7 separate regions of the Homo sapiens genome follow, and all the other regions are reported to be linked to region 4. The links are microRNA targets in miRTarBase. Many come from high-throughput screens and were not tested one by one. Region 4 holds a microRNA gene; each other region holds the end of a gene's coding sequence.
What was found. The annotated mature microRNA hsa-miR-124-3p reads UAAGGCACGCGGUGAAUGCCAA and lies in region 4 at 1,027-1,048, shown strand. An mRNA with a match to its seed (bases 2 to 7 or 8) in the 3' UTR can be bound and repressed. Matches are read on the target gene's strand: a 7mer-m8 pairs with bases 2 to 8, a 7mer-A1 pairs with bases 2 to 7 and ends in A, and an 8mer does both.

Region 1: miRTarBase lists EHD2 as a target of hsa-miR-124-3p. The part of its 3' UTR that is shown has no 7-base or 8-base seed match.
Region 2: miRTarBase lists XKRX as a target of hsa-miR-124-3p. The part of its 3' UTR that is shown has no 7-base or 8-base seed match.
Region 3: miRTarBase lists NCF2 as a target of hsa-miR-124-3p. The part of its 3' UTR that is shown has no 7-base or 8-base seed match.
Region 5: miRTarBase lists CD2BP2 as a target of hsa-miR-124-3p. Seed matches in the 3' UTR shown: 7mer-m8 at 1,173-1,179 and 7mer-A1 at 1,310-1,316.
Region 6: the mRNA of ARMCX2 is a reported target of hsa-miR-124-3p. The part of its 3' UTR that is shown has no 7-base or 8-base seed match.
Region 7: the mRNA of SQOR is a reported target of hsa-miR-124-3p. The part of its 3' UTR that is shown has no 7-base or 8-base seed match.

The regions. Positions count from the first base shown.
Region 1 is chr19:47,741,008-47,745,007 of GRCh38, reverse strand. It overlaps EHD2 (EH domain containing 2), which reads right to left. Exons shown (of 6, transcript NM_014601.4): 6 at 1,874-4,000. The coding sequence ends at 3,576. Among named protein-coding and RNA genes, the nearest start is that of NOP53, 2.5 kb to the left of the region's middle. RefSeq lists a silencer at 1,144-1,253.
Region 2 is chrX:100,910,551-100,914,628 of GRCh38, reverse strand. It overlaps XKRX (XK related X-linked), which reads left to right. Exons shown (of 3, transcript NM_212559.3): 3 at 1-1,184. The coding sequence ends at 291. It also overlaps the pseudogene NSA2P3. Among named protein-coding and RNA genes, the nearest start is that of XKRX, 16 kb to the left of the region's middle.
Region 3 is chr1:183,552,555-183,556,632 of GRCh38, forward strand. NCF2 (neutrophil cytosolic factor 2) reads right to left here. Exons shown (of 15, transcript NM_000433.4): 15 at 3,008-3,676. The coding sequence ends at 3,564. It overlaps SMG7 (SMG7 nonsense mediated mRNA decay factor), which reads left to right. Exons shown (of 23, transcript NM_001375584.1): 23 at 1-1,637. Among named protein-coding and RNA genes, the nearest start is that of NCF2, 36 kb to the right of the region's middle.
Region 4 is chr8:64,378,184-64,382,261 of GRCh38, forward strand. It overlaps MIR124-2 (microRNA 124-2), which reads left to right and starts at 966; the gene lies at 966-1,074. MIR124-2HG (MIR124-2 host gene) reads left to right here. Exons shown (of 3, transcript NR_109792.1): 2 at 1-306; 3 at 3,420-4,078.
Region 5 is chr16:30,349,216-30,353,293 of GRCh38, reverse strand. It overlaps CD2BP2 (CD2 cytoplasmic tail binding protein 2), which reads left to right. Exons shown (of 7, transcript NM_006110.3): 6 at 7-113; 7 at 199-2,521. The coding sequence ends at 309. Among named protein-coding and RNA genes, the nearest start is that of CD2BP2, 4.1 kb to the left of the region's middle.
Region 6 is chrX:101,651,905-101,655,982 of GRCh38, reverse strand. ARMCX2 (armadillo repeat containing X-linked 2) reads left to right here. Exons shown (of 6, transcript NM_177949.4): 6 at 1-702. The coding sequence ends at 293. Among named protein-coding and RNA genes, the nearest start is that of ARMCX2, 5.9 kb to the left of the region's middle.
Region 7 is chr15:45,690,693-45,694,770 of GRCh38, forward strand. It overlaps SQOR (sulfide quinone oxidoreductase), which reads left to right. Exons shown (of 10, transcript NM_021199.4): 10 at 281-589. The coding sequence ends at 338. Among named protein-coding and RNA genes, the nearest start is that of SQOR, 58 kb to the left of the region's middle.

The sequences.
Region 1 (4,000 bases), not on the chromosome of region 4:
CTCCTTCCTAGGCCTCCCAAAGCGCTGGGATTACAGGCTCACACCACCACTCCCGGTCCAAACTGATGTGTGTGTGTTTTTTTTTAAGAGACAAAGGTCTCACTATGTTGTCCAGGCTGGTCTTGAACCCCTGGGCTCAAGTGATTCTCCCTCCTCAGCCTCCGAAAATGCTAGGATTACAGATGTGAGCCACCATGCTCGGCCTGATTATTTTTTAATCTCGTTTTCTTAGAAAGTCAGAACCGTCAGTGGCAGATTCCGCACAACACACATTCCAATCTCAGAAGTTTTGTCCTCTCAAATGTTCCAATCCTAGGATCTTAGAAATCAAGTAACTTTCGGAATATCAAAGTTGGAAGCACAGAACATTAGAGGAATGTTAGAAACATACACTTTTAGGACCCTAGAAGTGCAGACTCAGAATCATTCATCTTGAGCGGGCTACTTCACTGTGCCTCAGTTTCCTCATCTGTAAAATAAAGATGATAACAGTACATCTGCGTCATAAGTCATGCAGAAGATTAAACATATGTAAAGCGCTTAAGGCTGCGTCTGGCATCTGAGTGTTAGCTATTGTTACTGCCTTGCCCTCTGAGGCTTCATCTTAGAATCAACTCATCTTTGTCATTTACAAATAAGGAAGGAAGCTCAGAGGCTCTTGGGCCCTGGCAGCCATTCAAAGGGATCCATGGCAGGGCGTGGTGATTCACGCCTCTAATCCCAGCACTTTGGGAGGCCGATGCAGGAGGATCGCTTGAGCCCAGGAATTCAAGACCAGCCTGGGCAACATAGTGAGATCCTGTGTCTGCCAAAAATTTAAAAATTAGCCAGGCGTGATGGTGTGCGCCTGTAGTCCCAGGTACTCGGGAGGCTGAGGTGGGAGGATCGCTTGAGCCCAGGAGTTGGAGGGTGCAGTGAGCCGTGATTGCACCATTGCACTCCAGCCTGGGTGACAGAGCAAGACCCTGTCTCAAAAACAAAACAATCAAATCAAAGGAATCCAGGCCTCATAAAAGCCACTCTGGACTCATAAAGGAAAAAGGCACAGAGAGGGCAGGCGACACACGCATGGTCACACAGCGAAATTCAACTGGATCCTTGCGCAGAGCGTTGGAAAGGTGACAGGCCCTAAAGGTGACAGGCCCTGGATCGCAGCCCCGAGACCTGAGCGCCGAATCACCTGGGCAGGGATTTTGGCGACCACAGCCTATCTGTTTTCTGAGCGTCCGCCAGGGGGCGCCGCGAGCCGCGAAACTGGGCCCGCGTGGGCGGGATGAGTGCGCGGCCAGCGTGTCCCGGGACGCCGTGGGTGTGGCCTGGATGTGAGTGCGCGGGACTCGGCGCGCACGGTGCGCTGCCCAGCTCTGGCCAAGAGTCCCCGGTGCGTGAGCGCGCGCACACTCCTGGCAGCCCGTGTGGGCAAGGTCACCACTTCCCCAACCAGAAACCAGCGTGTTCCTGGTGTTACGCGTCGGGAGTTATGTACCCAGGTTGTGCAAGGGCACGTTGCCGGGCAGGGCGGGAGCTGGGAGAGCACTTCGTGCCCGAATACACACACACACACACACACACACACACACACACACACACCCCGCGCGCGCCCCAGGGCTTGGTTCCCAGGCCCCCGCCGCGGGAGGTGGGAGGAAGGGATGTCCCGGGGGGAGGGCCCCAGAGTCACTTTTCCTCGGAAAATATGCCGTTCTGGCCCCCAGCCCAGGCCTGAGTCACCAGGCCTCGCTGCATTGAGTCACGGACTCCACCCCGCCCCTGAGAGCACGGAAGGGGGCCTCCCCCCACCCCAAATCCTGCCCAGGTCTCTCTTTCCCTGGGGGAGGGCGGGCGATCCCTGTCCCAAGCCAGCCTCACTGCCACATGGGAAGAAGCCTTGGCTTTATTCGCTCTGTGGGGACACTGTTCCGTTCAGAGGCCCCTCCCAGCCATGGGGTGGGGGACAGTGGTGGGCGTGGGAATCCCAGCGAGCATCCTGGAGGGTGCGTCGTCTCCATGTATTTTGCTCTTCCCCATCTTTTCCATGGGGTCCCCTGCCAGGGTCAAGCACTAATATGTGGTGAAGGCAGCAAACAGCGTCGGCGTCCCTTTAGGGGTGGGGAGAGGGCTGTAGCACCAAGAACCCCCTCCCCCGCCCACGACATCCCTGAAAAGGAGACTAAAATAAAGCCCCGGGGCCTTTCTACGTAGGGGCTCCACTTAAATATGGAATGGTGGTAGGCAGAGAGGCGGTGGCCCAGCAATCCTTAAGTCCAGATTACCAGCTGTGGGGAGGCTTCCAGGGGGCCAGGAGCAGGCTGGGCAGTTCCAGCCACAGACACGTGGGTGGAGGACGGAAATATCTCCAAGGGGGCACAGTATCAGAGGAGCAGGATGGAAGGGGCTTTTCTGCCTGCTACGGGATCCTTTTTAAAGAAATGGGTGTGAAGCCGGGCACGGTGGCTCATGCCTGTAATCCCATCACTTTGGGAGGCCAAGGCGAGCAGATCACCTGAGATGCGGAGTTCGAGACCAGCCTGGCCAACATGGTGAAACCCCGTCTCTACTCAAATACAAAAATTAGCTGGGCGTGGTGGCGCGTGCCTGCAGTCCCAGCTACTCAGGAGGCTGAGGCACGAGAATCACTTCAACCCAGGAGGTGGAGGTTGCAGTGAGCTGAGATCTCACCACTGCACTCCAGCCTGGGCGACAGAGCAAGATTCTATCAAAAAAGAAAGAAAGGACAGGACAGGAAAGGGAAGGGGTGTGGACAGAACTGGGGGCAAAAACAAAAAAGAAGGAAGGAAGGAAAGAAAGAAATGGGTATGGGCAGAATTGGGGGCAAAAACAAAAAAGAAGGAAGGAAGGAAAGAAAAGAAGGAAGGAAGGAAGGAAATAAATGGGTGTGGGCAGAATTGGGGGCTTTCCCCGAGCAAGGGAAGGGGCTGCGGAGGGGCCCATCTGAGGAAGCAGTAGGTGTGTCTCCCCTCTGAGCCCCCCATGGTCCCGAGACCTGAGGATGTGATGGAGCCGGTTGAGGGTGTTGCCTGGCTGGGCAGGAGGAAGCGGAGCAGAAGGGGGTCTGTTTATCTGCTAGTCATTTCAGCCACAGGGCTGCTCAGCCAGGGGAGGGGCTGGGGGCCCTGCCAGGAATTAGTGTGTGTTTGCGTGACTGTGTAGGTGCCCTCTCCTGGGAACGTCACCTTCCATGAGGGCAGATGTATTTGTCTATTTTGTTCTCTATGGTAATGCCCAGTGCCTAGAACAGGGCTGGGCACATAGTAGGTGCTCAATAAATATTTGAATGAATGACGGATGGATGGATGCCTGCGTGTGCCAGTGTGTGTGTGATGTGCCTAAGTGAACGTGAGGCTGGAGGTGTGAAGGGCGGACAGAGAAGCCTTGTCCCTCCCGTGGTCCCCTCTAAATGCTTCCACCGGGGTGTCTGGCGGTAGTGAGGAGGGAGACCCCCGGTCCTTACAGCTGGGCAGGGAGGGCAGGCAGGGCGTGTGTGAGCCGGAGCAGGGGTGTGCGTGCAGCCGACTGGAGCTGGGGAGCCACAGCAGGGCCATGGGAGGGGGGCCGGCTCACTCGGCGGAGCCCTTGTGGCGTCGCTTGGAGGGTGGCACCAGGCGACGGGGCAGGTTGGCGGGCAGCCCGTGGCCTTCCAGCTTGGCCTCGATGAGGTGGCTGGCCAGCGCGAACTCCTCATCATCCAGCATGCCGTCGCGGTCCACATCGCTGAGCTTCCAGATGCGCCCCAGCACTGAGTTGGGGAGCTTGGTCCCCACCATCCAGGTCTTGGCCTTGGAGCCGCTCAGCTTGCCGTCGGCAGGCGCCAGGTTGTAGAAGATCTCGTCGTATTTGGACTTGTCCTTGGTCACCACCCACTCGGCCTCGTCGTCCGAGCCCTCCTCGCCGTCCTCCATGGCCTCGTCAGGTCCCCGCTCCACAAACGGGCCCATGTGGGTGCCCTCAAAAGCGCCCCCCTGCACGCCCACCTCGGTGCTCT
Region 2 (4,078 bases), not on the chromosome of region 4:
AGTGTGAGGTTGGTAGAGAATGTGATCATGGTCTTGGTTTTTAAGTTCTTTGGAGTGAAAGTGTTACTGAATTACTGTCATTCCTTGATTGCCTTGCAGCTCATTATTGCTTATCTGATTTCCATTGGCTTCATGCTCCTTTTCTTCCAGTACTTGCATCCATTGCGCTCACTCTTCACCCATAATGTAGTAGACTACCTCCATTGTGTCTGCTGTCACCAGCACCCTCGGACCAGGGTTGAGAACTCAGAGCCACCCTTTGAGACTGAAGCAAGGCAAAGTGTTGTCTGATTCTATTTTCTGGGTATTTTAGGAAGAGTTGGGAGTTGCCAAGAGTAACCATGAAATTGAACGAAAGGATGAGGTTCATGGGTGAGATACCCATCAGTACATTTTCTTGACTTTTCTGTTAAGCCTATCAGAAGAAAGAGCAACTCCCAAATAGGTTTTATTTTCTTAAGAGTTACCACTATGTTTGGAAACAGGGGGTATCGACTATATAGTTGAAAGGGTCAGAAATACCATTCACACCCTTCTTACCCAAGTCAATTGGAATAACTTGTCTTCAAACACTTTAGGCTCTCTAAAGTGACCTTCTAGCTCTGCTCATTTGCTTGATGCATTTCTGAGCTTTCCTGGGCTGAGCTGAAGGCCCAGAATCCCGCTAGAATATATCCTGACTGATCAGAGGATATGACAGCTTACCAGCTAAGAGTACCTCCCAGGAAACAGTCTGACTAATGTGGAACCTGCAACTGTCAGTGTGGCTGGGGTCTTTTTAATTCCAGTGAGAAGCTCTGGCTGAGAAGAAAATCACCACTATTAAAAAAGCTGCTCCCCAAGCAGATTAGCTCTCTGTTAGGATTTTACTAGTGGCCATTCAGCAAGGACCTCTCTTTACAGTGGCACTTCATAGGCACACTCTAAGGAGAAAGTGCAGAGTAGAATTCCTTCAGGGCATAAGCCAAAATGACTCTTTTTCTCAGGGACCTGCATGGGCCTCCAGCTTGTCTATTGGAATTGTTAAGTGAAGCCTCTCACTTAGTGCCTCATTAGCAGAGATTTCCTCCAACCCAGCTTTTCTGTGCTCTTGGTATTTTACTACTTGATGTGGACCTCAGAGAAGCTGAACTGTAATTGAAAATGTTTCCGATGTGTGGAAGAAATGAAGACTGCTTTGTGTCTGCTGTTGTCCTGAGTATTTCATTAATGTGTGTGTGTGTGTGTGTGTGTGTGTGTGTGTGTATGTGTATGTGTGTAGGGAAGAAAGTAATAATGGCTGAGACATCACCTTCATGTTGTTTGCGATTGGGATGGGTGACTAACACTCCAAGGTAGAGTGAAGGCAGAGGAGGGAAACAAGATCACATTAAATCATCATCAGTACTGGTTTCTGCCTACAGGAGTTTACTTTTTTTTTTTTTCTTTTTTGAGATGGAGTCTCGCTCTGTTTTCTAGGCTGAAGTGCAGTGGTGTGATCTTGGCTCACTGCAGCCTCTGCCTCCTGGGTTCAAGCAGTTCTCCTGCCTCAGCCTCCCGAGTAGCTGGGATTACAGGCGCCCGCCACCATGCATGGCTAATTTTTGTATTTTTAGTAGAGATGGGGTTTCACCATGTTGGCCAGGCTGGTCTCGAACTCCTGACCTCAAGTGATCCACCCGCCTCGGTCTCCCAAAGCACTGGGATTACAGGCATGAGCCACCTCACGCGGCCAGGATTTTACTTTATAACAAGGAACATATGTTTATCAACCCTCTGTTCGTTCCTATACCCCCAGTGGACGAATGCATGTCTCCTTTTCTCCTATATCTCAATGTTTACATCTCATATCAGTTGGGTATTTTGATAGGAATGTCAGCCAGCTACCTCTGAGGTAACCAAGGGATTGAAGTTACTATGGCCACTGCCTATTGGGACCAAATATCCCAGCATTTACCTAACTAATGCTTGCCCCTCACAGACCAGGAAAATTAAAAGAACTCCTAGTCGTGGCCACCACAACACTTCAAGAAATTGTGAACAATCTGACCTAGGGCTTCCTGTCCTCATCCAATTTTACTCTTGGTAGCATGCTAAGAATTTATCTTTAGTCATTTCCTCTCCTCTTATCCAATGTCAGGACATTATGTTGAGGGAGTTCTCTCTTCTAAGTAGCAGGGCTGTTAACCAAAGTATCTTATTTCTTGGCATGGCTAGCATGGTTTTCCCTTCATCAGCCACTGTTTGGGACTAAAAGGATTATATAACTTAATTTGGGAGAGACTGTATGGACTTGCTTTGGAACAGTGGAGAGCTCCTTTCTTCAACCCCAACTCCCCCATTCCATTTTTCATGATGAAGAGACTTAGTTATTGTCATATAAAGCTCACCTGCTGTCTTCTAACTATGTTATTCAAGGTGAGGCTTGAAAGAACTAATCTATCAGACCTCCAGAAGAACACATTACTTCTTTGGAATTCAAGCAAGAATTTCTCCCCAATAGTCACTGTACCCTCAAGTAAAATCAAGAGCAGCATGGAACAATAATTTGGTCCATAAAAGCCATGTGAATCAGCTACTTAAGGAGTGGGTGCTATGGAAACATATAGACACATACTGATCTAAGGAAGTCAATTGGAGATAAAATGACGCTACACAGGGCAAAAAGTGTGCCTCAGTACTGGACCAGGCAAAATTTTCCTTCTGTATATTCTCCCCAGCTTCCTCAGTGACTTAACATCCTGGGAATGCAGAGAGTTTAGGGGTGTGGAGTAGTTTCTGACCTGAAAAACCTGCTGCCCTCACCCAAGGAGAAAAGACTCTAGTGATACATTATGTAAATGAACCCTTAGAACTTCCTACAGATGGTGGCCTTTTGGTTCTGTAAAAATCCTCCAGATACACAGGAGAAGATGGAATTGTGAAATATGGTAGTGGGGCAGGGAACTTGCTCCCTTCCATTTGCAAACACTTTTAAAATTGACTACTCTCTTCTTACTTTCTGAAATCTTTTTTTAACCATTTTAATGTTTGCAATTTAATAAATCTCTTGATGATTGCAGACATATAAGGCTGTTTGGTGGTATTCAGAAACATCACAGTAATGGCAGTTTTTTCAATTGGTTTGTAGTCCTCAATAATTATATATTAAATTGCTGTCAAACCAGTAAGACTGCATTTATGCATCCATCATTTTCAGGATTGTTGGTAACCTGGGCATATTTTCCCCAAATAACTTTGCCTCTTTGCGTCACAAGTCCCAGTTTGCTCACATTTACCTCAATGACAGTACCTTTGGTAATAACACCCAAAGTTGTATACAGTGGGAATGAGGGATTCTTCTTTACACCAAGTATTGGTAAGCAAAAGGTGGCTTTCAGTTCAGGATGTGTTACATGGGCTTTCTTGAAATGCAAGCCCATTGGCCTGATGAGTCTTTCATATTTAGGTGGTTTTCTTATAAAGCCATCTCCAACAAAGCAGACTTTAGTAACCATCCTCTTCCATGCCTTCTTCTTTCTCTTTCCTGTTCGAATAACTTTTAATACTTTTGTTTCTCCTTGGGCACATACTTCAGGCAGAGGGACTTCCCATTTTCCCACCTTCTCTTTTCGTTTCTGTTTAATCATATTGGAAAGTACTGTAGCTCGAGATTGTGCCTCTCTGTCCAGCAGATAGGCAGGTACTGATCCCCGTGGAGTCTTTTCATTATTCTTGTGTTTGGTGTTTCTCTTTTCATGCATCTTGATAGTCTTTTTCATTTGTATTTTCTCAGCATGGCACGGTTTATGGTAAAGCTTAGCCTTCAGACCATCATTTTCTTTGCCTTCTTTGAACGTTCGTAGCCTCTCGACTTTCCTTCTTTCTCTTTTTCTCATGGTAATCCAAACGATATCCATAGCGTTTACAGTGTAATTCAATATATTCGTTCTGTGGCATGGTGAAGGCCGCAGAGTTGCCAGTAGCAGCCTCTGGGGTGCGAAAATGCTCTCAATTTTCAGGTCTCAGAGACCCACGAGCCGAGGCCGCACAGTCCTCTCTGAAATCTTTTTTTTTTTTTTTTTAAGACGGAATTTTGCTCTTGTTGCCCAGGCTGGAG
Region 3 (4,078 bases), not on the chromosome of region 4:
ATAAGGGAGAGTTCAAGGCCTGTCAGAAGGCTCTGGTAGGCCTTCCTCTGGCCAGGAGACTCCAGCAGGGAATGCCCTTCACTCTGTAGGTGCTCGAGCCCCAATCGAGGATACAGTGTGGGTGGTGGTGCTGGGCTGGACTAGCAGGTAGACTGCTGTAGGATTTCAAATTACGTTTTTGATTCCTGTACATTTTACAGTCGCACAGCAAGCAGTCTCACAGAAGGCAGGCTAGTCCATTCACAGCCTGACACGTTCTAATAGGTAGAAGCTTTCAGTGTGGTTATTTTTTCTTTGGTTGGTTTTTGTGCCCCCATTCTACTTCCCACCCTCCTGCCCCATCTCCATCCCTTCTTTTACCCAATGCTGTATGCTAGTAATTGTTTTTATTCCTAATGTGTGCAACATCACATCTCCCCAAGAAGCAACAGCATGGGGTCCAGCAGTTGGGGCCCAAAAGACAGTCTGAAGAGGAAGGAAGCAGCAGTATCTGCGTAGCCCACAGAGGGCCCAGGCCCCTGCCCAGCTGCAGTCTCCCAGCCTCCACTTTCAGAGTGAAATTCAAGGCAGCACGGACATGTGCCCATCAGGCACAGAAGAAAACACGACGTCGTCCATTTTGGAAGAGACGAAAGAAAGGAAAATAAACTCTTTGTATGATATTTATTAGGAGGAAAGAGGACTGAAAATGTTCTTGTGTAGAAACAGAAGGACAGCATTTCTGTTAGTCATTTCCTGGAAAAGTAATATTTTAAGGGGAAATTATGGAAACAATCTAATTGTTCAATTGCTGTGCTAGTGGTAGGGTTTATTTTCTGGGAGGTCTCTCCTTTGTGTGTCTGTATGTTTGTGTACACACACGTGCCCATCTGCTGTCCCAGAGGGGAGGGGTTGTGTGTGCGAGTGTATGGAGTTAGTGTGGAACTTAAGAGCTGGAAGACAGCTGTAGAGCAAAGCACATCCAGGAGCCCCAGTTGTCACTGCAGTCTGGGCAACCCCAGCAATGAAAAGGGGTGAGATAACGCTCATTGCTCTTCAGAGAGAGTGGTTGGAGCCCCCCCCGCCCCGTATGCTTACATTATTGCTCTTTTAGTTTGACATGGTGTTTGGGTTTTGTTTTTTTGAAAGGTCTGAAAAGGTGAAGCCCCCTACCCAATGGCAATATGAAACCTTTTGTGCTTCTCTTCAGCCCCTTCCCTGTGTCCACCTTTCTCTCCTCTTCCCAAGCCTTTTTCCTACTACCTTTACCCAGTTTGTGTGTTTGAGCTCTGCATTCAGGCAGCTGCAACATTCCAGTGTTTGAACTGTCACTGATTCTTGCGCCCTAGACAAGCTAACCAGGTTTACCATCTCACTCCCAGTAATACCCAGCTCCTATCTAAAGCCCCATTCTGCATGAGAATTTGGTGTTTGGAATGTTTTCTGACTCTTGGGGCGGGATTCCTCGCCTTATCATCCTCACTGTGGAGTAATGAGGGGGAGGAGAATCTTTATCAGAAACTGGTTTTGTGTAGTAAACTTTCTTTTGTGGTTTTTTGTTTTGTTTTCTGGGTTTTGTTTTTTGTTTTTGTCTGTGCAAGACCTGCAGCTGCTGAAAATCAGCTTTGCCTTTAATTAAACCATGTTCTCTCCAACCAGATCTGTGTATCGATTCTTTCTTTTCTATCCTAAAAGATATAAAAGAAGTATTGAAGAAAATCCAACTTAAAAGGCAAGAATTTCAACTACTCACAGGTCATCCAGGGAAAGGCATAAATGGTCAGAACTTGAATATTTTTCAGGGTTAATTTTGCTTTTAGTAGCATTCCAAACCAATGAATTACGGAAATTATAATTAATTGTAATGGAAAGGCATGAGTAGTAAGAAATCGATTATCAAAATTCTTTTATTTAATAAAAGAATGCCTTATGTTAAGGAATTAAGAGCCCATCATTTTTATTTTTATTCCTATTGTAGCTGTTACTGAGGCAGTTCAGAGAGTTTATCCTTTTGGCCTGTAAAAATTCACTGAATCTGATTAGCAGCAACATTAATTAATTCTTCTTCTTAGCTTTGGGGTTTCTTTTCTTTGAGTTGTGTCCAAAGTTTCCAGTGATTGGTAGCTTGCTGGGTCTTCCAACTGTGTGCTGGAAGCCAGTGGTATAGCTAACCTTAATGCCTGTGTGCTCACCCTGACCGGCTATCCTTTCACCTGCATGTTGATTCAGTCTGCAGTTCACTTCCTTATTCTGCTTTTCACAGGCGCCTGCACACTTGAAAAATTGTTAGCAAAGCTCCACATACGCTACAACAAGAAGTGGGTAGGGAGAGGAACTAAGGCCAGGCCTTAAGGTCTAATAGTTTAGTTAGTTACAGAATCCTTCACCCAAGTTAATCCTGAAAAATTGGACAATTGGGTTAGCCAAATCCATAGCATTCTGTTATGTATATTAGTATAGCATAGTATATGCAGTCATTTACCATATAACAATGTTTTGGTCAACAATGGACTGCATATACAATGATGCTCCCATAAGATTATAATACATTTTTGCTGACCTTCTCTATGTTTGTTTACACTGATGATACTTACTTACCATTGTGGTATAGTTGCCTGCAGAATTCAACATAGTAACATGCTGTACAGGTTTGTAGCCTAGGAGTAGTAGGCTATACCTGGTAACCTAGCTGTGTAGTAGGCTATACCATCTAGTCTTGTGTAAGTGCACTCTAGATGAGTTTGCACAACACGTTTCTCAGATCATGTCTCCATTGTGAAGCAGTGCATAACTGTATTACGAAGTGTCAGCTAACAAGATACTACTTACGAACTAGCTTCATGAACACCGCTGCTTTTCATCACTTAAATGTTGGCGATTGATATATATTCAGTATTGAGTTCTTAACACATGTTCCTCTCTGAGAATGTACAAAGGTATGTAATTCTATTAATTCTCTGTGGAATTGAGTGTTGTAGTCCATGAGAACCTAACTCAGTCTAGGTTCTGTTTAAGCAACAAGACATAATGAAAAAAGAAAACAAACAAGTTTATTTGTATATGCCTTATGAGTAACCTATAAGGTTACTTCAAGCCTTAAGAGCCAATTACAGTAATGGTTCAGAAACAGGAATATTTGTACTTACTCCTTGGGCCTGGACTTGGGTGTCTTGTTTTTGTAAGATGCTAGGTTTTTTTTTATTGTGGTATGACACAGAAAAGTGCACCAAATGTACAGCTTGATGAATGTTTACAGTGTGAACACAGCTGGCTAGCTAGCACTCAGAGCAAGAAACAGGATCAGTACCTGGAAGACTCTCTCGTGCCCTTTCCAGACACTTCCATCCACTTTTCCTCTCCCCTAACTCCTCCATTCACCTGTCCCCATCTCCTCACCCACTGTGCCCCAGGAAATCATCCTGGGTACTCACATCATTGTCTAGTAGGTTAAATTTTAACAGGGAATAAATAGTTAACACTTCCAAACTGTAATGTCTCAGTACAGTATACAGCAGAAGGGTGCTAAATCTTACAAACAAGTAATAGGGCTTCATTTTCTTCAGCTTTGTAGTTTGTGAAACATCCTAGACTTCTCTCCGAGTGCTTTCCAAATCTGTAGTTGCGCAGTCTTCAACAAAAACTTTGGGGAAAATGCCCACCTTCCCTTTGCACTCCCCTTCCAGCCATTCTTCATTCACTGATAAAAGGAAAAGTACACATGGATTTCTAAAACCACTGTAGGAAGATTACCCTGTCTGGCTATTCCACACAGAATTTGTTATCTGTCACCCTTCCCCACCCCTAATTGTGATCAACAGGGAAAAGACAGTATTGCAAAGTGGTTTGAGAGTGAACACAGGGTTTAACCATCTTATTGATCTGTCTTAAACATGATAATGAGCAAAATGAAGAAGGATAAATTATGTTTTTCAAAAAGTTACCAGATAGAGAAGAAGGGTCAAAGAAATTGAACAACGAATCCTTAAATAGAATTTCTGTCCTTTCCCCACCCCCAACCTTGACAGGGTCTCACTGTCACCCAGGCTGGAGTGCAGTGGCACAATCTGGGCTTACTGCAACCTCTGCCTCCTGGGCTCAA
Region 4 (4,078 bases):
GTCGCGCCCGCTGCCTCCTGCCCGCTGCGCAGAGGGCTCCGCCCGTAGAGGTCAACTTCCCTCACCCTTTTCTCTCTCCTGCTTGCCCTCCCTCCGCCCGGCCCAGGCGCTTCCAGCCCCAGACTGTGGCCACTGGCTGAGGAGTGCGAGTCGGCTGCGCTGCCCTGAGCCTAATCCCTCTTCCGGGCCCAGACCCGAGGTCCGCGCTCCTGGGCAGTGGGGAAGCTTTAGTGAGCAGGCTTTTCTCTCCGCAGCAAACTTGTAGCCAGACCAGATGGGCCGCCCAGCTCTCTCGGGACTAGGCAGGTGCGGATGAGTTAATTTTTCCGCATTACAAAGAAAGATGACCCAGCCCGCCCTTGGACTCTCTTTTCCCAAAATCTCCCAACCAAACCCGCGGTAACGTTATCAAAGGACACAGAGCCCAGGCATATCTGTGTGTTTATCTTACAGGCACACACGCATGGTTTTCTCTTTTATATGCTAGATTTCATCCCTGACAGCAGAAAATGATTGGCAATGGTTATGACGGAGAACATGCAATAGCGTGGTCCTTAAAAACCTGCCATTCCTTACAAGTGCCTTAGAAAGGATTCAGGGCGAACCAACTGGGTTAATTGCATTCAGTAAAATAACACGATTACAAAATTAGATCTGTACCAGAGGGGTAATTAACTTGGATCCACGCCGTCATTTGAAAACTAGATTTATAGGCTTATGTATGTTTTTAGGCGTGTGCTGTAAATGGCATGGAGATATATGCATATGTATACGCAGGCACACGCACCGTCTACACTTCCACGGAACAGACTAATTAACAGCGGCTCTGGCAGATGTGTCAGAGATGAGCAGAGACAGGAGCTGGGCTTATGAGTTATGACTCTAGGGGTAGAGACTCAGAGCGGAGAGAGGGGGATGGGCAGGGAGAGAAGAGTGGTAATCGCAGTGGGTCTTATACTTTCCGGATCAAGATTAGAGGCTCTGCTCTCCGTGTTCACAGCGGACCTTGATTTAATGTCATACAATTAAGGCACGCGGTGAATGCCAAGAGCGGAGCCTACGGCTGCACTTGAAGGACACCAAAGCATCTCAGGGTCAGAAAGGGGAAAAAGCAATTGCAGGGAATTTAGGGGGTAGTAAAAGGAACCCATCTCTTGCCGCATAAATGCCCCCCACCCCCACCCAGGACTGATTCTGGAAGCAACCTAGTGTTCGAAAGGGAAAGGCTCCTACTTTTCCATTACAGCCGCGGAAATCCGCAGGCAAATCTCCGAGGAGAATTTTAGGGAAGCTTCATTGACAGCTGTCTGGAGAGCAGTAGTTCCCGCCTGTGCAAATATTCCAGAGAGTTAAATCATTTAGAAAGCACTAGTTCTTTCAAGAACAGGTAGTGTGATTGTCTGCAGTCCTGGGCCAAGCTGGGAAAACAAAACAGCAGAGAGAGGTGTAACATTAAATAGCGTCCTGACCACACTGCGCAAGAAACAGCAAATGAAACGTCCAAACTTTGGAAAGATCTGAAGAACACTTGCCGCCCGCATTTCCCCTTGACTTCTCCCTTTTTCTTCCCAATCTCGAGGCGTTCATGCCTGGCTTTAAGACGCCAAGATAACTCTCTTGTTTTGGCATTGTCGCAATGTCCAAATCGGTCAAAGGAGTGGGATAAGGTGAAAGGACCAGGTCAGAAACTTTAGAAGGACTCGGTAAATTAATTTGTTTGGAAGCCAGTGAGGTGGACTATGTTGAGGTAGCAGTTCCGCACCACGACTTTGGAGCCAAAGAAAAACCCAGGCCGAAAAAGCGAGCCTTGATGTCTTTGTTCTGCCTTGGCCTGCAGGGGTTGGGAACAAAGGAGAGGAGCTAAGAGGATGCACCAAAGTAGCCGCGCCCTCCCTGCCTGGCGCTGTCCGCGGTGCTGACCGTGGCCCTTTTCTCTCTCCGTAATCAAACTGGAAAAGCAATAGGACCGTCCCGTCCCTACTCAAAAGAAGAGTAGGATATTAGGTAATTTGAAAAATAACATTTAAAAAGAGAAAAAGGTCACATACAGCAAAACAATATTTTACTGAAATCGTTCCCTCAAGCTGGTTGCTACCCTTGCCTGACACTTTTTGGTCTTCACGTAGGAATGCACACATACATACATTGTAAGTGTATGGGGAAACCATTTCCACTTTATTTAGGCTGAAACCTAAATCGCAGGATTGCAAGAAGGAAATTGAGGAGAATGAAGGCTTTATTATTATCCTTTTCTTTCTTAAATCATCTTCCTTAAAACAGAAACATAAGGTCCTCAGCCGCGGATTTTAGTGCTTACTTGGTCACCAAAGGGACGTGCAATGGACTCAAGTGTGGGCCTCGAGGCTTAACTAGGAAGGGGTGGGTCGGGGACCCACCAGGTGAAACAGGGCAGGAGCCCATGCAGCTTGCCACCTTCGGCCAGGCCTTGCAGCCCGGCAGCCTTAGTAGACGGGTACAGAGGGCTGAGCTCTGCAGACCGCTCTGCTGCGCAGGAGCCTGCTCGGCGCATCCCAGCCGGCGGGAGGCACTGGAGGGCCAGGAGGCCTGAAACCCGCACTGCGGAAAAACCGACCTCAGCCACATCCTCATAGCTCACGCGACGGAAAGAGGCAGGGCGGTTTACTAAATCTTATGCAGTGAAAATTCGCCTTAGAAATCGAAGGTTGGATGAGTCAGTATTGATATATTCAAAAATCTAAATTTCTTAGCATATTTCATCGTTCTTAGATGTTGAAAGTATTAAATGTAAACAATACAAATTTAAATTCCCTAAGTAATGAATCAAAATGGCAAGGGAGAGAGAGAGAGAGAGAGACGGAAAATCAACCAATTCGTAGCCACCCTGGCTGGCTATTTCTCAAAAGAAATTTCTATGCATTTGCTTGAGTTTGTCTATAAATTCACAAACATAAAGGGTGTTAAAATTAGTAACAGACAAAATAATTCAGGTTGGACAATAGAGACAGCAACACCGATTTTGATCCAGGTATAACAATGGGCCATGCATTGACAATGACCTAAAAGACATGTGTTCATTAAGTTATTTTTTTTACACGGGATGTAGATGTATCATAAAATTCATGAAATAAAGCGGCCAGGTGCAATATCCTCAGAGAGCTGCCTTCTCACCCCCTGCCTCAGGGCGGATTTTATCTGTCCTCGAATTTTAGAACTCTGCAAGTCGGGTCTTTCACATTCATCGATTACTTTGGTTTATATTTAATTTTATCCAATTTCGGAGTGGGTGGGTAAAGCACACTGGAAAATAGGGGCTGCTCGAATTACAAAATTTAAGGATTGGGAATATTCCTCTTGTGCCAATTAAAAGCAGTCGTTGGAAGCAGAAATGAATTTAAAGCATTACACGTTATCATGGCGGCCTTGCTTTTTCCTTCCAGTATTCATCCAATTGCGCTGATCTCCTGCATCCACATCTTGCGTAATCCACAAAGCAGCTATGGTCCAGGGCTGCAAAATCGTCCTGCCTGATTCCTTTAGAATTCATACTACCTCAGAGGAGCAAACCTAATCCCCTCAGCCTAATCCTACCTGTTTAGGATCATCTAAACTTGTCCTTCAGAAAGCTTGATCAGTTTAAAATTGCTTTCTAAATAGAAATGAAATACGTGATATGAGAGAGGTTAAAATACTGCTTAAAAAGGGAAACACTCAATTTAGTAATTCGGTTGCCTAGATGAAATCGAGTGGCTATTGATCCGTGATGTTTCTAGATTTTTAAGACTATGTACTTCCTATTTCTTTGGAAAATAATCATCCAGTTTGATGCCCATTACAAATTTTCCTGCTATGAAAGAAATTCTATGCGCGGCAGTTTTGCAATAAAACAACCCGGGCTTCGCAATGGGAGAACTTCGGTGCGGCGTGCCGTGAGAGTCCTTTGACAATCTCAGCTTTCATCTAGGTCTGAAATTAAAGCTTCTCGGAATAATTTAGGAACAGCTTGACCCGTTGAGATACTCAAGGACAACCCTCCAGGGAAATAGTATGTTTCCTTCCTGGGAACAAGATGCTAGCGCGGTGCACCGGGAGGTATCTG
Region 5 (4,078 bases), not on the chromosome of region 4:
TTTTAGAAGCAGAGTCGCGGGGAGATGGTCTGGTGGATGTGATGTGGGAATATAAGTGGGAGAACACGGGGGATGCCGAGCTGTATGGGCCCTTCACCAGCGCCCAGATGCAGGTGAGCTGCTTTCTCCCTCCTCCTGCCTTGTCCCTGCTTCCCCCACTCCTGTCAGTTGTTCCCCAGCTCTGCCCTCTCCTTGCAGACCTGGGTGAGTGAAGGCTACTTCCCGGACGGTGTTTATTGCCGGAAGCTGGACCCCCCTGGTGGTCAGTTCTACAACTCCAAACGCATTGACTTTGACCTCTACACCTGAGCCTGCTGGGGGCCCAGTTTGGTGGGCCCTTCTTTCCTGGACTTTGTGGAGGAGGCACCAAGTGTCTCAGGCAGCGAGGAAATTGGAGGCCATTTTTCAGTCAATTTCCCTTTCCCAATAAAAGCCTTTAGTTGTGTACTGGGGCCTTGGCTGTGCTGATGGCCAGAAGCCAGGGGCCTTCTCCACAGTCCCTTTGGACTTGTCTTGGTCCCTGAGTACTCCCATGAAGATCCTTCTTGGAGGTGCCTGTCAGGTATCCTGTGGCCTCCCTGCCTGGACTCTGCTTGCCGTGTAAACACCCCCAACTGCGCTGCTCTGTGCTCCTCTCCCAGGTTTCTTGTTCGATTCCTCTTAGGTCTTTGGCTTTCAGGACCTCAGATTCTTTATCCTTGTAGCCACCAGAGGACAGAGCCCCAGAAGTGGATGTTTTAGGCCCAGAAGGACCAGGGCATCGAGAAGACATTGGGACCCTGTTGGGGGTGAGCATGGAACCCTCTTACTCTCGCTTCACCCTCTCAAGCTCCTTAGATGCTGGGCAGAAGTGGGATGAGTGGCCCAAGACCGAGATCCCTAAGGTTCTGAGAGCCAGTGTCTTCCCTAATCTGGCTTTCCTCTATCCTTGCCGTCGTTCCCACAGCCCTTCAGTGAAGTGCAAACTCAGTGGCCAAGTGTGGGCCAAGTGTGCATTGTACTGGCACAGAGAGGGGCAGTGACTCACTGGAGATCACAGGAATCAAAGGGCTGGCCCAGACCCAGTGGGCTCCTTTCCCAGACCTTTCTTGGCACAAAGCCTTTGCTGCCTGGCCTTGGAGGCCCTGCGGCCTACATTCTCTGGACCCCACTATGTGCCTGGCACAGGGCTAGTGCCTTGAGGAAACTGAGGTAGCTGGGTTGGTCCCCTTCCAGGAATTCAGAGTCTGGTGGCAGGGGCATGGGAAATAGACAGATGTAATTCTATAGCCTGGGCCTGGCACCCTCCACCTCCACGCCCCACCAGCATTGCCTTACGCCTCCCTTGCCCCACGTTAGATGGTTTCTTCCGGTTTTGCACTCTGGCTGCCCCTTGGAGTCTCCTGGGGAGCTGTAATATCTCTTTGGAGATTCAGATTGAGCTGGTCTAGGTTGTGGCCCAGGCATTGGGCATTTTGGAAGCCCCCAGGTGTTTTCAGCTTGCAGCCAGGCCGAGAGAGAGCCCCTGAGTCAGATCCCCATGGTTTAGGCACACCTAGCGGGAGGGGTGGCTCCTGGACCCCACCGTGGTTGGAGAGCTGAGCATGTGTGTGGCTTTAGTGGGGTCTGTTAGTTATGGGGGTCTGGGCACTGGAGCTGCAGGACACTTGGGATCCCAGGTCAGAAAGGGCCAGATGAGCAACTAGGAAAGACTTGGGGGCCAGGGCGGAGTGGGGTCACCTGACACTCTTGTGAGGCCCCTTCTAGTGCCTGCTCACACCGGAATTTCATTCACTCCAAGAAGCCATCAGGGGTAAGATACCTTCCTTTAAACGTCACTAAGAAAGAAGAGGCCTGCCGGTGACACAGTAAGATGCCATTGATCTAAAGATGCGTCTTGATTTCAGAAAGGTCCGGAAGTGGAAAGCAGGTTTCAGGGCTGCTGAGGTACAGGGTTCTCCTGTAGGCCCCAGGGATGGTCTCAGGGGTGCTGAGTGCGTGCGTGGTAAATGGATGGAGCCCAGGGGCGCCTCCTGCCAGTGTCCTCCAGGCACTCAAACCTAGCCCTTCTGAAGCCGACCTCACGTGACCTCACAGCCCCTCCTGAAGGCGCCTCACTGATGACGGTGGGTGGAATAACAGCCCCCAGAGATGTCCAGGTTTGGAACCCCAGGACGTGGGAAAGTGTTACCTTGCGTGGCAAAAGGGACCCGGCGCCTGTGCTTCAGTTCAGGATTTCGTGGTGGGGAGATGACCGTGGATGGTTGAGGTGGGCCCTGAGTAATCATGGGGGCCCTTATAAGGGAAGGGGAGTCACGAGGGTCTGCGCATGAAGCAAGGAAGCTTCTGGCTGTGAAGATGGCAAGAAGGCCTGGGGCCAGGCGATGAGGTGGCCCCTGGAGGAGCTGGAAAAGGCATTGGATTCTGCCCCAGAGCCTCCGTGGAGAAACAAAGCCGCACTGACAAGACTTCAGCCTGGTGAAAACCATTTTGGACTCCTGACCTCTAGAACTGTAAGATAATAAATTGGTGTGGTTTTCAACCTCTCAGTTTGTGGTAATTTGTTAACAGCCCCAATAGGAAACAACTACTCATGCATCCAGGGGACACCTCATGAACCACCCGATCTCACTAAGTTCTCCCTTCCTGTGACCACATTGCTATTTCAGGTCCCTGTCAGCACTTATAAATGTGGCTGCCTCTTGCTAGGGTGGCCTTTATAGCACATCTGAAACAGCACTCCTTGGCTTTTTGTTTGTTTTGTTTTTAGAGACAGGGTGTTACTGTCACCCAGTAGGGGTGACAACATCTCTCTACACTGGAGTACAGTGGTGTGATCATAGCTCAATGCAGCCTTGAACTCCTGGGTTCAAGTGATCCTCCCACCTCAGCCTCCTAAGTAGCTGGGTCTACAGGAGTGCACCACTTCACCTGGCTAATTAAGAAACTTTTTTTTGTAGTGGCAGGGTCTTGCTATGTTGCCCAGGCTAGTCTCAAACTCCTGCACTCAACCGATCCTCCCAGATCAGCCTCCCAAAGTGCTGGGGTTACAGGTGTGGGCTACTGTGCCCAGTGTGCTTTTCTTTTTTAGTTGTGTGTGTATATATGCAGTTTATATGTATACAGTTTGTAAGAGATACATATAGATAGATAGATAGATATAAACTTTTTGTTTGAGTAAGTTTTTTTTTTTTTTTTTTTGAGATGGAGTTTCGCTCTTGTTGCCGGGCTGGAGTGCAAATGGCACGATCTCAGCTCACTGCAACCTCTGCCTCCTGGGTTCAAGGGATTGTCCTGCCTCAGTCTCCCGAGTAGCTGGGGCTACAGGCACCTGCCACCACGCTTCAGTACCCTTCAGTGGTTTTTTGTATATTCACAGGGTTGTGCAACCATCACCACAGTCTAATTTTAAAACCTTTTTTTCCTACCATGAAAGAAACCTGACCCATGAGTAGCCCCTTCTCACTACTCCCCACCTTTCCTCACCCCCCAGCCCTGGCAACCACCCATCTACTTCCTGCCTCTAGATTTGCTTCTTCTGGGCATTGAAGATAAATGGAATCATATATGTGGTCTTCTGGGTCTGGCTTCTACTTGGCCCTATGCTTTCAAGTTCAGCCATGTGGATATCTTCATCTATGTTTATTGTTTTTTTTTTTTTGAGACGGAGTCTTGCTCTGTCACCCAGGCTGGAGTGCAGTGGCACGATCTTGGCTCACTGCAACCTCTGCTTGCTGGGTTCAAGCGATTCTGCTTCAGCCTCCCAAGTAGCTGGGATTACAGGCCTGTGCTACCACACCTAGCTAGTTTTTGTATTTTTAGTAGAGACTAGGTCTCACCATGTTGGCCAGGCTGGTCTCAAACCCCTGACCTCAGGTGATCCGCTCCCCTTGGCTTCCCAAAGTGCTGTGATTACAGGCGTGAACCACCGTGCCCAGTCCTTTTGTTTATTGTTGAATAACAGTGTATTGTGTGGATGTACGGTACATTAATACTAATTCAACTTCACCCTTTTTTAAAATTTTTCTTACTAATTCAACTTCACACTTTTTTTTTATTTTTCTAGTTTTCCCCTAATGTCCTTTTCTGCTTCAGGATC
Region 6 (4,078 bases), not on the chromosome of region 4:
CTGAAAATCCAGATATGTTGAAGAAACTTCTCAGTACCCAAGTGCCAGCATCATTTAGTTCCCTCTATAATTCTTACGTGGAATCAGAAATCCTTATTAATGCCCTTACTCTATTTGAGATTATCTATGACAATCTCAGAGCAGAAGTGTTTAACTATAGAGAATTCAATAAAGGTTCCCTTTTTTACTTATGCACTACATCTGGAGTGTGTGTTAAGAAAATTAGAGCCTTAGCAAATCACCATGACCTCTTAGTGAAAGTGAAAGTTATAAAACTAGTGAACAAATTCTGATTGGTTATGTACCGTCAAAAGACTTGAAGAAATTTCATGATTTTGCAGTGTGGAAGCGTTGAAAATTGAAAGTTACTGCTTTTCCACTTGCTCATATAGTAAAGGGATCCTTTCAGCTGCCAGTGTTGAATAATGTATCATCCAGAGTGATGTTATCTGTGACAGTCACCAGCTTTAAGCTGAACCATTTTATGAATACCAAATAAATAGACCTCTTGTACTGAAAACATATTTGTGACTTTAATCGTGCTGCTTGGATAGAAATATTTTTACTGGTTCTTCTGAATTGACAGTAAACCTGTCCATTATGAATGGCCTACTGTTCTATTATTTGTTTTGACTTGAATTTATCCACCAAAGACTTCATTTGTGTATCATCAATAAAGTTGTATGTTTCAACTGACAAAAAGTCGTTCTAATGCTTGAATTTAAAACCCAGATGGAGAGATAAGGTACATAAATACAAAAGTATATATACAAAGATCTATGAAAAATAATAATAATAAATAAATACAAAAGGATTACTAACAGTACCTGGGCATATGCTCTTTGTCAAATATACACTATCTGTTTAAATGAAGCAGAGGTTGCTGAGAAAGCTTCAAGGAGGAAGGGCGCATTTAAGCTGAACCCTGAAGGACAACATAGAAGGGCATTCCAGGAGGGGGAAATGCTTTGGAGAAAGGCATGCAAGTGAGAAATCTGTGCCTGTGATAGGAAGGTAGCCAATTTGCTTGGAATGGAAGCCATGGGAAGAGGAATGATGAGAGATAAATGTGAAAATTCAGAGTGAGGAAAGTTTGAGGAAGATCCTGAACCCCAAGCCAAAATATTGAAATAATATCTTGTCATATTATGCAAATTGCTGAACATTTTTGACTAAAGGAAAAATAATCTGGTGGCAATATTAAAGATGGATTGGAGCTATGTTGGAGACTGGACATTTGTTAGAAAGTTATAATAAGCCAAGCAAGAGATGATGAGGGGTGAAGTGGGGTGGTGACTAAGGGAACTGTTAGTGTATGATGATAATAAGAGACAAAACAAAACAAGAAGGACGAAGATCTGCTGCCTGACGCTTGTCTGTGGATCAACAAAGCTGGAGGATTGTATAACCTCATGCAGGTCCTGACAGGGAAGAGCCCTATTTGGGGGGCAACTGTGGAGACGGCACAATGACAAAGTGAGTCACCATTTGGGATGAGAAAAAAGCAGTGTGGCAGAAAGAATGACTCTTGGCACAGAGCAGTGGTTGGCTTCCTAGGGTTAGAGGTTTAGGTCTGCCATCTTTTAGAAGAGGGGCAGTGGTGAGGCCTTGATGGGAGTCCCCATCCCCACTCCCAAGTTCACTTATGAACAGGTATGCTTTCCTCCCTGGCCCACTGAAGCAATTAGAAAGTGGGAGGGTCCGAGAGATTTTTCCAAACCCAGCCTGCTTTCCTGACACCCTTTATGGTTAACAACAGTATATTGTATACTTAAAATTTTCAGAAAGAGTAGATGTTAAGTGTTCTAACCACAAAAGATAACTATATGGGGGCAAATGCATATGTTAATTAGCTTGTTTTAGCCATTCCACAATGTATACATATATCAAAATATCATGTTTACCCCTAAATATATACAATTCTTATTCGTCTATTAAAAATACATTTTTTAAAAACTGATATACTTCTATATTGGCATGAAAAGACATTAACTACGTGTAAGGGCCTGTCGCATCAGTCAAAAAGTCCACACAATTAAAACTGGGTGAAAATTCCTTCATATGTTTATTATATACATCCCTGCGTATTTTTTTCATAAAATTGGAATCATATTGTATGATAATGGTTCTCAATGTGTAGTCCATGGACTACTGCAGGTCCCTGAAACAGTAAGGTCAAAACTATTTTCAAAACAATAGTAACATGTTATTTGCTGTTTTCACCGAGTTGACATTTGCACTGATGGTGCAAAAGCATTGGTGGGTAAAACTGCTGGTGCCTTAGCATGGATTAAGGCAGTGTCCCCATACTATACTAGTAGTGATTGCATTCTTTAGAACCACACGCTCTAATTTTTTTAAATCCAAATTTATTTAAAAATGTATTTAATATAGTCCTTATTTATAAAAATTATATATGATAAAATCTCAATGATTGAGTGCAAGTCTTTTTAATATTCCGTGTGATGAAATAGGAAGTACGCACAAAGCATTTCTGCCACATAGCTTAGGACAATGGTTGTCTCTAAGGTAAATATTTGCATAATCATTTTAGTTGTGCACTGAATTAGCTGCTTTTTTCATGGAACATTAGTTTTACTTGAAGAATGACTGGCAGACAAACTATGGTTTTTCAGACTTCGGTATTTAGCAGAGATTTTCTTGAAAATGAATGAAGTGAGACTTCAAGAAAAACAACTGACAGGATTTGTCACCAGCAATAAAATTTGAACTTTTATGCAAAATTAGAAATTTGTAAAACTTGTATCCACAAATTCAAGCTTGACAGCTTCTCTTGAAGATTTTTCTGAAGAGATCACTGGTGATAATAATGGAGGTGATGGCCTTTTTTCTTTTTCTCCTAGGAGAAAATTGATAGAAGACCCTAGGGCCTAATGTTCTTACTCAGTTTTACTGTAATCATTGTAACCCATATGACATCGAATCTATGGCTATTTAATAAATAATACAATTGCTGTGGTAACAACATGACCCTGAGTGAGGTTAGACCCAAGAATTTTTGAACCATTACTAAGGATAACCTGAAAATATGTCAGTCCTGGAAAAGTATTTCTGGGGTAAGATAGAGGTAGTATTTGAGTTCGTATATGGAAGATGGATGCATCAGAACCTCCTGGCTTGATCCTCACTATTCAGGTAGTCTAACCAGCTTTATCTGCTCTGATTAACAGTGGAAACTTCCATAATCTTCAGGTGAAACCTATTCCCATACAGAGATGTGTGGTCTGGCCTAACGAATAAGCTACAAATCACACAATAGGGAAATGCTTTATTTCCTAAGGTCTGAATTTTTGTGCCTTAAATCATATCACATGTGAAAGTACGAGCGTAGTTCAGGTGTGGCTAAATCCTAAAAGAGTAGCTCTTTGAAAGATTTAACTTCGTAAAATAATAACAATAGGTACCAGGAATTGAGCATCAGCTATATAGTATTCTATTATTCCTGAAATGTGACTGTTGAAACATTCCTTAGGTATTCTGTACTATAGTATTTACCTTTTATATTGTGTGTCCAGGGCCTATATGAAGGGGTACAGTTCTCACAACTGTTTGCACTGAATAGTCCTGCTTTCCTTGCTTCAATTTGTTAGTCTGGGTAAACAGTCAGGTCAAGAAACATTCATGTTCTCTCTTTTTAAGAATGTGGCCCAATAAATGCAAGGACTGAGGATACAAGGCTGTCATTTTAGTGGCAGAGCACAATGATAAATTGATACAAACTCCTACTCTTGGAGTTCCTGGAGCTGCATTTGTTTCCACCCTTTATCAGGCCAGGTTATTGAATTTTTCCCTTGTAAGATCTATCACAATATATTTCCTTAAATTATCTTTTTGTGCTTAAGGAAAAGGCCTCATACTAAGAGTAAGATGAGAGATGGGGCAGTAAGCAATAGAGTCTCAAGAAATCATGGGATATTTGGGTTGAGGTGGGCAAAATGCAAATGAGACTTCCTTCCCAATCTGGGGTTGAAAACAGTCTACAATTAATTGAGAGCTTTCCCTGTGACAAAAGTTCTATGTGACAAGGTAATTGCTCCTATAGAACATTTCACGGGGA
Region 7 (4,078 bases), not on the chromosome of region 4:
CAGAAAGAGTAGCAGTTTGCATGTAGTAGAGGCTTTAGACACATTTGCCAAATTGAGTTAGCACATCCAGGCTCACACAGCAAGTCTTTGTCAAAGCTTAGGAATGGAAGTAGGTTGTCCCCTCCTAGTCATGGGATCTCTCCAACTCACTAGACAATCTTGCTTTACGTGCTGATGAACATGCTCTGTGAGCAGCCTGGCTTCCCTTTCAGCATCCTCCTGACTGAAGTCGCCCCATCTCTCTTGCTGCAGGTACATTTTTTTGTGTTATTTCTTACAGGGGTTACTGGGGAGGACCAGCGTTTCTGCGCAAGTTGTTTCATCTAGGTATGAGTTAAGGATGGCTCAGCACTTGCTCATCTTGGATGGCTTCTGGGCCAAAACTGCAGTCACTGAATGACCAAGAGCAGCACGAAGGACTTGGAACCTATCCTTGTAAAGAGTTCCTTGATGGGTAATGGTGACCAAATGCCTCCCTTTTCAGTACCTTTGAACAGCAACCATGTGGGCTACTCATGATGGGCTTGATTCTTTGGGAATAATAAAATGAAATAATACTTTTATTTTCTGAATAAAAGTTTGTCACTGATTGTGTTCTATGAGAAAATTTTATCTTGGCTGATAGGGATGAAAAGTTCCAGCACTTGGGAGAAAAATATGGTGGTGGTGGGCTAGCTTATATGTTATCTACTGTGAGTATTCAGCTGACAGCTGGCATAATTTCACAGAGCCTATTTGGATTCACTGAAAAGGGTCATTCCAGGGACAATATTGTTTCAAACATAGTGGGCAGTAGCCCTGAACATGTGCTGCTTAGAACTCCTGCCGCGGGAGCACTGTGGAGTAAGAGCCCAGCTGCCACCCCTCTTGTTCCACCACCCTGTTTATGCTAAGGCCATACTTTCTTCCAGCCAGAGACTGAACATGGTGGGGTGCCAGTGCTGGCCCATTCCTTGGAATGTGGGACTTCTCTACTGGACAACTTTAGCTCCAGGACCCCCCATCAACCTGGCTGAAACTTCCTTAGAACTGTGCTGCGTCTGAGGTTCTATCCAGTCCTCCTTCCTTCCCCCTCTGTTTTCATACGTGTCCATCTTTCACGGTGGTGTGAAGGCCCGCCTTGCCTTCTCCTGTTCCGTCTCCTTTATGCTTCCTAGCCATTTCCCCCACTAAATCTCCTGCAAACCTAGTTCTCTCCAGGCACCTGTTTCTCAGGGAACCTACACACAGTGAGACTGGGGTTAGAGGAATCCTGATGTGTATACCAAGCATTTGCTAGATTCAGTCCCAATTTTGCTAACAAGGTTTTGAATGAGTTTGTACTAGAGATATTGCAGGAAATAGTTCCAGTTTATTTGAAGTTCAGCAGTGGCTTAAAAATAATTTGTTTTCCATTAGTTTATTGTAGAAGTTCACAGGTTCAGTTCAATCTGGCATTTTAAAGCTGTGAACATTTCATATTTATAAACTCCCCCAAAGGGAAAGGCATAGCAGTTTATACAATGCCTTAGATTTTTTTTTTTTTTTTAGACGGAGTCTCGCTCTGTCGCCCAGGCTGGAGTGCAGTGGCGCGATCTCAGCTCACTGCAAGCTCCGCCTCCCGGGTTCACACCATTCTCCTGCCTCAGCCTCCCGAGTAGCTGGGACTACAGGCGCCCACCACCATACCCAGCTAATTTTTTGTATTTTTAGTAGAGACAGGGTTTCACTGTGTTAGCCAGGATGGTCTCAATCTCCTGACCTCATGATCCACCCACCTCAGCCTCCCAAAGTGCTGGGATTACAGGCGTGAGCCACCATGCCCCACCACAATGCCTTAGATTTTTATAAGGTTAGAGTTCAAACCCTTTTATGTGTTACTAGATTGCCAAGTCTGTTTTCCTAGCGTTCTCTCGATGATGTTAGAAACTTTGGGCGTTCACTCACTCATTCAACAAATATTTATTGAGCATATACTACCTGCTAAGTACTATTCTTGGCCCAGGGTATATACTGTGTTGAACCAGACAAATAAGGGCCCTGTCCACATTTTTGTGGTGCCTGTGATAGTTTCCTCTTCTTTTCCTGGGATGCCAAGGGAGCTTGTTGAGTGAGGTCCTGGCTTGATTAGAGAAGTAGACTGTCTTCAGTGGCATACAATCTGGGGGAGGGCAGGGCACTAACTGCTCTAGCCGCAGGCCGCTAACCTGGCGACAGGGGTAGAAGATGTTCTCTAGGGTGTCCACACATCCTGGTTTGCCTGGGATAGTCCTGTTTAATACCTATTGTCCTGGCTTAACTAAATAGTGTCCCCTTTAGCTCTCCAAGATGTCGCAGTTTAGACAATAGATTTACAAGCACTCTGGGGATCACCCTCCACCCCCCAGTCCCAGAATGGGAGAGTAGTGCTACGAATGGTGCTAATACAGGACTTGTCACCTCATTGGCTTTTCCATGGTGCTCATGAGACAAGCAGGAGTAGGATTAGTCTGCCTTGTTCTCTGAGTCCTGGCAAAGAAACTCCATCCCTTTATGGAGTTCCTGCCCGAGACTGCTGCCGCCTGGCTCCTGGTGGGCTGCTCACTCTCTCAGGCATGGAGGTCAGGGAGAGCCGGGGGCTGTTCACCTCTAATGGTTCTTCCCTGCAGGGTCTAGGAAGGCTTGGGGATAATCCAGTTGGGACTCTCTCCCTGGATGTAGACAAAAGTGCTGGCAAGGTAAGTTTCTGCATTTTCAGAGAATGGGGCTGTGATTCAGAGAATGGCTGAGGCTCCAGGTGGAGTAACTTTGAAATCCCTTGTGGAGTTACCTCGAGCCTCCTGGGTCTGTTTACGATGATGCATTCTGAAGGAAACCTTCAAGCATCAGGGAATTGATTCCAGGTTCACATTATGCTGGGTAGGTTGTATTGCCAAAGCTGGAGACAGCAGTGACCATGACTGGACAGTTTTCTTTCCCCTGAGCTGGGAAAGACAAAATGTGCTGAATTCCAGAAAAGCTTAGCCTTTGAAACCTTATCCACAAATGTGGGGTGCCAAGGGAGAGGGCTTCCCTTAGCACTGCTGCCATAATTAGGAGTGGGCAGTAGGAAGAGGAGGTAAGACCAGGGTAGGGATAAGGATAGTGATTTTTCCAAGGGTGTTACCTTGGGGTGGGGAGGATGTTGTAGGTCCCATCCTACAGAGGGCTCCAAACTCAGGCCTTCAGGGTCCATAAGTGACGTGGTGCTGAGACTGCCGACTTGGGGAATCTCTTTAAACCCTCCACCCCTTTTCTCCAGAGCTTCTTCCTTCTCAATTCCTGCTTTGGTGTTAGCCCTGGATGAGCTGTGGGTGTAATAACAGAGCTGAGGTTGTAGTTTAGGGGCCACTGGGGTACAGGGAAGTAGGCTAGGCTTAAGTTGACTTGGGGATCACAGAGTTTGAGATTTAATATGATTTTTTTTGGGTATTTTTTTTTTTTTTTTTGAGAGGGAATCTTGCTCTGTCACCCAAGCTGGAGTGCAGTGGCCCGATTTCGGCTCACTGCAACCTCTGCCTCCCAGGTTCAAGTGATTCTACTACATCAGCCTCCTAAGTATCTGAGACTACAGGTGCATGCCACCATACTGGGCTAATTTTTGTATTTGTGGTAAAGATGGGGTTTCTCCATGTTGGCCAGGCTGGTCTTGAACTCTTGACCTCAGGTGATTGGCCTGCCTTGGCCTCCCAAAGTGCTGGGACTACAGGCGTGAGCCACCGTGCCTAGCTGATATTAACATTTTAAATGCTTTTTTTCCTTGTCTAAATTTTGTAAAGAATTTAGAGAACAGGTGTAAACAAGAGGACTAAAAATCACTTCCACATTTGCCACCCAGTTATAATAACTAGTAACATGTTGATGTCTCTCAATTGACCTAATATGATTACATATCAAGTTTCTGAAAACTGAAACAGGATGGCATTGTAAGTAGTGTTCTGTGGCCTAGCGTCTTATGCTTAATAGATAGACACTGAAGACCCAGTGGTTGGTTGTGGAGAGGAGGTAATCGGGGCAATCTCTCAAGGAGCACAGGGCGTTTGTGCCTGCTGAGAAAACTGCTCATTAACCAATTAATGTA